Regions from separate parts of the Homo sapiens genome. Here region 1 is reported to be linked to region 2. The links are microRNA targets in miRTarBase. Many come from high-throughput screens and were not tested one by one. Region 2 holds a microRNA gene; the other region holds the end of a gene's coding sequence.

The links. Region 2 holds the annotated microRNA hsa-miR-330-3p (GCAAAGCACACGGCCUGCAGAGA, at 1,179-1,201, opposite strand). A microRNA usually pairs through its seed, bases 2 to 8, with sites in the 3' UTR of a target mRNA and lowers its output. Matches are read on the target gene's strand: a 7mer-m8 pairs with bases 2 to 8, a 7mer-A1 pairs with bases 2 to 7 and ends in A, and an 8mer does both.
Region 1: the mRNA of SFTPB is a reported target of hsa-miR-330-3p. Seed matches in the 3' UTR shown: 7mer-m8 at 525-531.

Annotation. Positions count from the first base shown.
Region 1 is chr2:85,658,534-85,661,927 of GRCh38, forward strand. SFTPB (surfactant protein B) reads right to left here. Exons shown (of 11, transcript NM_000542.5): 10 at 2,921-3,002; 11 at 1-1,149. The coding sequence ends at 2,940. Among named protein-coding and RNA genes, the nearest start is that of SFTPB, 8.0 kb to the right of the region's middle.
Region 2 is chr19:45,637,831-45,641,224 of GRCh38, forward strand. It overlaps MIR330 (microRNA 330), which reads right to left and starts at 1,257; the gene lies at 1,164-1,257. EML2 (EMAP like 2) reads right to left here and starts at 1,567. Exons shown (of 19, transcript NM_012155.4): 1 at 1,527-1,567; 2 at 1,015-1,043; 3 at 675-804. The coding sequence starts at 1,546. RefSeq lists enhancers at 393-1,244, 481-775, 1,245-2,096 and silencers at 481-775, 1,472-1,751, 1,772-1,861.

The sequences.
Region 1 (3,394 bases), not on the chromosome of region 2:
TGCTCTGTCACCCAGGCTGGAGTGCAGTGGTGCAATCTCGGCTCACTGCAACCTCTGCCTCCTGGGCTGCAGTGATTCTCCTGCGTTCAAGTAATTCTCCTGCCTCGGCCTTCTGAGTAGTTGGGATTACAGGCATATGCCACCACACTTGGCTAATTTTTTGTATTTTTAGTAGAAATGGGGTTTCACCATGTTGGCGAGGCTGGTCTCGAACTCCTGACCTCAAGGATCCTCCTGCCTCGGCCTCCTAAGGTGCTGGGATTGCAGGTGTGAGCCACCACGTCTGGCCATACTGCAGCACTTTAAAGGACGGTGTCTTTTTCTTTCTCATAAAAGAGAATAGGACTTTATTAGCATTGGTGCAGACATTGTATTACACAGGAATGGGTCCCTAGCTTGCACAACCCCAGCTGAGCTTTCAGCAGATAAATCACAGCAGAAATAGAATCACCCTAGGACTTTCAATCAAAAGCTGGAAGTCCACCTTACAGAAAGACAAAAAGAAACCCCTTTTTATATCTTAACAAAGCAATAGCTCTCAAGCAGCAGAGCATCTCGAGGAAGAAAGCTTGCCCGGTCGCCATCCCATCATGCCAGAGCGTGCAGTGTCCACCCTTGACTACGCTGGGGAATTGCTGATTTTTTGAAAAAGCTTAACTTAACAATTTCTGATGTCTATCTTTTAGAGTTCTGTATGTTCCCATTTTTTATTCTTCTGAATTTTGAATTGCAAGTAGCTGTAAAATCCAATCTTTGAGTGCATGGGGGTGGGTGTGAGGCGGGGCTCAGCTTCAACCCCCTGTCCTGTAAAGCAGTGGCTGGTTTTTCCTGAGCCCAGCCCTGGGAGGTCGTGGTAGGTGTGGAGGCTGCAGAGCTCCTCCAGATGCTGCCCTCGCTGTGCCTCACACCAGAGAGGATGGAAGTGGGCTCTGGTGTCAGACTGTGGTTGAGCTGAGACAGACAAGGCCGACACAGGGCTGGGGGCCCGTGGTCCACCAGTGGAAGTGACTGCCGAGGAAGGGCGGTGAGGAGGGCGGTGTGGGAGCTGAGGCTTCTTTTCAGCCTGGCAGCTGGCGAGGGCCAGGGAGCAGGGGAAGAGCCTGGTCACCATGGTCCCAGAGCCCGTCTCACTTGGCTTTTCCTTTGCAGCTGAGGAGGATGAGGGCCAGAGAGGGACTGTGTGTATGTCCTGCCTGGGGACCCACAGCCAGGTGATAGCAGAGGTGGTTTGAAGCCCAGGCCTCCCACGCCAACCCACTGGTCTTGCTGTTTCAGCAGGGAAGGCCGGGAGCCCTAGGAGCTGGGGAAAGGCGACTGCCCGGGTCCTGGGTGACTCCCCACCCCCAGATCCCCAGCTGTCATCACTGGGGCAAGGACACATTAAACTGGTCCCTGTGGGTCAGGTCTGAGTGGGGGAGGACCTCCCCTCCCCACTGCCTCCCACAGGGGCTTGTGATGCAGGGTTTCAGGAACAGGGCTGGCTTCCCCGCCTCAGATGGAAGAAGTGGACTTGGCTGTGAGCTCCAGGAGGGCAGGGCTCAGCCATAGCCCCTACCCTAGGATGTGGCCTGGCCACAGGCACCCACTACTTTTTTTTTTTTTTTTTTGAGACGGAGTCTCACTCTGTCACCCAGGCTGGAGTGCAGAGGCGCAATCTTGGCTCGCTGCAATCTCCGCCTCCCAGGTTCAAGCAATTCTCCTCCTCAGCCTCCCAAGTAGCTGGGATTACAGGTGTGTGCCACCACATCTGGCTAATTTTTTTTTTTTTTTTTTTTTTTTTTAGTAGATACGGGGTTTCATCATGTTGGTAAGGCTGGTCTTGAACTCCTGACCTCAAGTGATCCACTCGCCTCGGTCTCCCAAAGTGCTGGGATTACAGGTGTGAGCCACTGCGCCCAGCAAAGAAATACCTTTTTTTTTTTTTTTTTTTTCCTGAGACAGAGTTGTGCTCTGTTGCCTAGGCTAGAGTGCAGTGGCACGATCTCGGCACACCGCAACCTTCGCCTCCCAGGTTCAAGTGATTCTCCTGCCTAAGCGTCCTGAGTAGCTGGGATTACAGGCACCTGCCACCATGCTCAGCTAATTTTTAAAAAATATTTTTAGTAGAGACAGGGTTTCGCCATGTTGGCCAGGCTAGTCTCGAACTCCTGACCTCAGGTGATCTGCCTGCCTCGGCCTCCCAAAGTGCTGGGATTACCGGCGTGAGCCACCATGCCTGGCCTTACATTTTTTAAAATGAGGGAACAAATGAATAAATGACCACCATGTTAGGGGCTGGCTCTGAACAGAATTGTAAAGTGGGCCAAGCTTGCTCTCAAGGTCACCTTAAGCCCACGGTTGCTGTGTCCTGCCCTCTCAGGGTCATTTCCCAGCCTCCAGGCACCTGTTCACAGAGGCTGCATCTGGCCTCGCCTCCACCCCTCCATCCTAAGGTGCTCCGCTGACTTAGAACAGGACAGTCAGGGAGAGAATGTGTCTCAGGAGGGTGGAGTCAGATGATCACGGCCTTCCTGGCATCTGAGGGGATACAGCTTCGGGTAGCAAAGTGTGATTTTCCCTGAGCCCCAGGAAAGCTTGGCCTTGGTCAGAATACATTGAACCCTGAGGGCCAGAGAGTCCCTGGGGCAAGCTCTGAGAGGGAGGCCTGGGACAGGGCAGGGCGGGGGGTTGGGGGGGAAGCTGGGGGTTGGGCACTCAGTGACTGGGGTTCTGGGCGGGGCAGTGCTCGGGGTCCGGAAAGGGTGTTTTCCTGATGGCCAGCCAGAAGCCCTCAGGAGCCTCCAGCTGTGCGGTGAGAGGGAGGATGGAGCAGCCGGCAGGAGTGGCCGCCTCTTCCTGCTTGGGGAGCAGAAGGGCCTCCCATGCCCTGATGGTCAGGACCTGCCCCCTTACCTCCCCGCAACTGGGGGCCTGGACTCACCTGGACAGCTGAGTTCTCATCAAAGGTCGGGGCTGTGGATACACTGGAGAGGGCTGGACATGGTCCCACACACCCCGAGGGCCTGTCACAGGGACAGCACCAGGGCTGAGGCCTGGGCCCCCTCAGCTCCCCACACCCAGCTCTTCCGGGAAAGAACAGCACTCACTCCACCTCCCGCCTAGTGGGTGCTACCAGTGTGACTCTGTAGACCCCTCGGGCCACTCCCTGAGCCACAGGCCTTAGGGTTTAGAGCCTGAGGAGGTGAGATGTTCACTCCAGAACACCCACTTTGTACCCCCACCCCACCAGCACACACTGGCCAGGGAACACAGCCCCATCCTATAATGGACATCCAGCCGCACTCCTCAGGCCATCCCTCCCTTCCCATCCCCCTTTTCCATGCTCTCATGATTTTTTACACTGAAACAGAGAGGGGTGCCTCCCAGTCCCTGGCCCGTGCACCTGGGACCACCT
Region 2 (3,394 bases):
CACACTCGGCTAATTTTTGTATTTTTAGTAGAGACAGGATTTCATCATATTGGTCAGGCTGGTCTCAAACTCCTGACCTCAGGTGATCTGCCCACCTCGGCCTCCCAAAGTGCTCAGATTACAGGCATGAGCCACCGCGCCCGGCCTGCTATTTTATTTCCTGTAAAGACGAGGTCTTGCTATGTTGCTCAGGCTGGTTTCAAACTCCTGGGTTCAAGTGATCCACCCACCTCGGCCTCCCAATGTGCTGAGTTAGTGTTTTATCAGTCCCTGTGCATGGGGCACATACTATGAGCTCAGTACCTTTACACATTATTTCACAGGTCTATGGACCTGAGATCATAAAATTCATTTTTCAGAGTCAAGACGACTTTTCCAGGGTCACACGGCCAGGTACGGGCTGGACTGGGGTTTGAACCCATCTCTGTCAGACTCCAGAGCCCGGGCTTCCAGCCATTCCCAACTCTTTTTGCTCAAATGCACCAATCCCACTCTGGCCACATAGCCCTTGAACGTGCTGTGCTTGTTTTGTGTGTTGCCCAGGCAGGTCTCAAACTCTTGGCCTCAAACGATCCTCCCAAAGTGCTGAGATTACAGGCCTGAGCTGCCTTGACCGCCTTTCTATTTCCTCCTGGGGGGATGGGAGCACCAAGGAGATTCCAGCAAAAGGATACACCCACTCCAGCTTGAGCCGGCAAGAAGGCAGCTCCGAGCGTGTGTCCAGGCTGTAGGTGGGTGCCAGCTCGTCTGGGATCATCATGGGCACAGGGCGGCCCCTCAGGAACATTTTCACGGAGCCATCCTCTGCCAGGACACCCCCAGAGGTCAGGCACTGACACCAGCCCCATCCCTATTCCCTCTCCTCTTCCAGCTTTATTTATTTATTTTTTTAAAGGCAGGGAAACTGAGGCCAGAGAGGCAAAGACCCAGTAGCCAAGACTCCTGACCTCTGGCTCCAGCCTGTCACCCCAACAAGCAAGCTTCCACCGAGCCCTTCCCCATCTCCCCACTCACCCACACTGAAGATAACTTCTTTGGTTTTGCTGTCAGGAAAGGACAAAGAAAAAAAAAGGGTCTTAGTATTCAGTTCAGAAAAGGGGAGAAACCATTCCTCCACCCCCACCGCTCCCCGGAGGTCTCCGATGAAAACGGGGCCGAGTAAGGGGCAGAGCGCTGCCTCTCTGCAGGCCGTGTGCTTTGCTCGGTTGATCTTGCAGAGCCTAAGACACAGGCCCAGAGAGGCAGTGATCGCCAAAGATCACACAGCACGAAGTGGCAGGGACGCGATCCTGGAAGAAGGGAGTCACCAAGGACCCTTCCCTCCTAATCAGCAAGGTGCTCCCCAGCGCCCCCCACCCGCAGTTCCCCCAGCACACCAAACGTCAAGCAGAGGGAGAAACGGGGAGAGTTTAAGGGAAGGGGCGTGTCCCCACGCCGGTCTGGGTCCCAGGGGTTGGGTGAAACCTGAGATCTAAGCCCCGGGAGCGCGGAGAGGAGATGGGGGGTGGTCTGCGAAAGGGTCTCACCCAGCTCCAAAGCTACTCATGGCGGCGGGTGGCGGAGCTTCGGGGCCGGGGGTGGAGCCGGGACCGGCTCTGCCGCTTCCGGCCCTGGGAGGCGCCCGGGCCGCCGCGCCCCTGCCCCGCCCTCCACAGCCACCCCTGGAGCCGGAGGGTCCCACCGGGTCACACATCCCGGGCTGTGGACTCCCGATCCCAGGTTCTTTCGGGGTGGGTGGGGGAGAGTGGTTGAGAACATGGACTCGGGAGCGCGCCTGCTTGAGTTAAAACCCCAGTTCTGCTAATTCCTAGCAGTGTACACAGGTCGTCCAACCTCTGCCTCGGTTTCCTCATTTAAAAAATGGGGATAATAAGAGTACCCGGCCGGGCGCGGTGGCTCATGCCTGTAATCCCAGCACTTTGGGAGGCCGAGGCGGGCAGATCACCTGAGGTCAGGAGTTCAAGACCAGCCTGGCCAACGTGGTGAAACCCCGTCTCTACTAAAAATACAAAACTTAGCCTGGCGTGGTGGCTGGCGCCTGTAATCCCAGCTACTTGGGAGGCTGAGGCAGGAAAATCATTCGAACTCGGGAGGCAGAGGTTACAGTGAGCTGAGATTGTGTCATTGCACTCCAGCCTGGGCAACGAGAACAAGACTCCGTCTCAAAATAAATAAATAAATAAGAGTACTCACACCTCCCGGGGGTAGTTGCGAGGGTGAAATTGGTTAATTATTGGGAAGTGCCTGGAGTATACACAACGCTGTATTTGTGTTTGCTATGTTTGAGCAGAGTTGAAATGTGCAGCTTTTGACCTTGGTCTTGCCCTTGCGTGGCCTCCTAGCGCTGACCACGCCCACTGCACCATAACTCCAGCCTTAGGGTGATTTTTGTTTTGTTTTGTTTTTGATACAGGGTGTGGCTCTGTCGACCAAACTGGAGTGCAATGGCGTGATCATGGCTCACTGAAACCTCGAATTTCCTAGGCTTAAGTGAGCCTCCTGCCGCAGCCTCCCAAGTAGCTGGGTCTACAAGCGAAGGCCAGCACGCCCGGCTATTTTCTTTCTCTCTCTTTTTTTTTTTGTTTTTTGTTTTTTGTTTTTTGTTTGTTTGTTTAACGGAGTCTTGCTCTGTCAGCAGGCTGGAGTGCAGTGGCGCGATCTCAGCTCACTGCAACCTCCGCCTCCCGGGTTGAAGTGATTCTCCTGCCTCAGCCTCCCGAGTAGCTGGGACTACAGGCACGCGCCACCACGCCCATTTTTGTATTATTAATAGACAGGGGGTTTCACCATGTTGGCCAGGATGGTCTCGATCTCTTGACCTTGTGATCCACCCGCCTAGGCCTCCCGAAGTGCTGGGATTACAGGCGTGAGCCACCGCGCCAGGCCTAATTTATTTTCATTTTTAGTAAAGACGAGGGCTCGCTATTTTGCCCAGCCTGGTCTCGAACTCCTGAGCTCAAGCGATGATTCCCGCCTCCGCCTCCCAAACTGCTAGAATTATATAGCCTTAGTTTTTGACTCTGTCCAGATCTTCAGTATGGCCCCGCCTCTGGAGTTGACCACGCCTGTCATTCTGAGCCTCCCTTCTAACCCTGTCCCTGAGTTGACTCAGTTGCTTGAGAATTGACTGCTACCTCCCGCCAACGCTCCTTCTCCGGCCCGCCAGGCATTCTGATTACGTCCATTTTCACGTATTCCTTATGTGAATACCTTCGAGGCCTCCAAGTTGGCTGCACCTCTTGGCATTTGACCACGCCCCTACGGCCCCGCCCAACCTTTAAGCCACGCCCTTTTCAACCTGGCAGTGCCCCCCGATTTTGATGTCAAAGCTTCTGGAATCTGGAATGCCTCCACCTGGTCTCAGCCTCTGTTACTCCGTACCCCAGATTTTAAT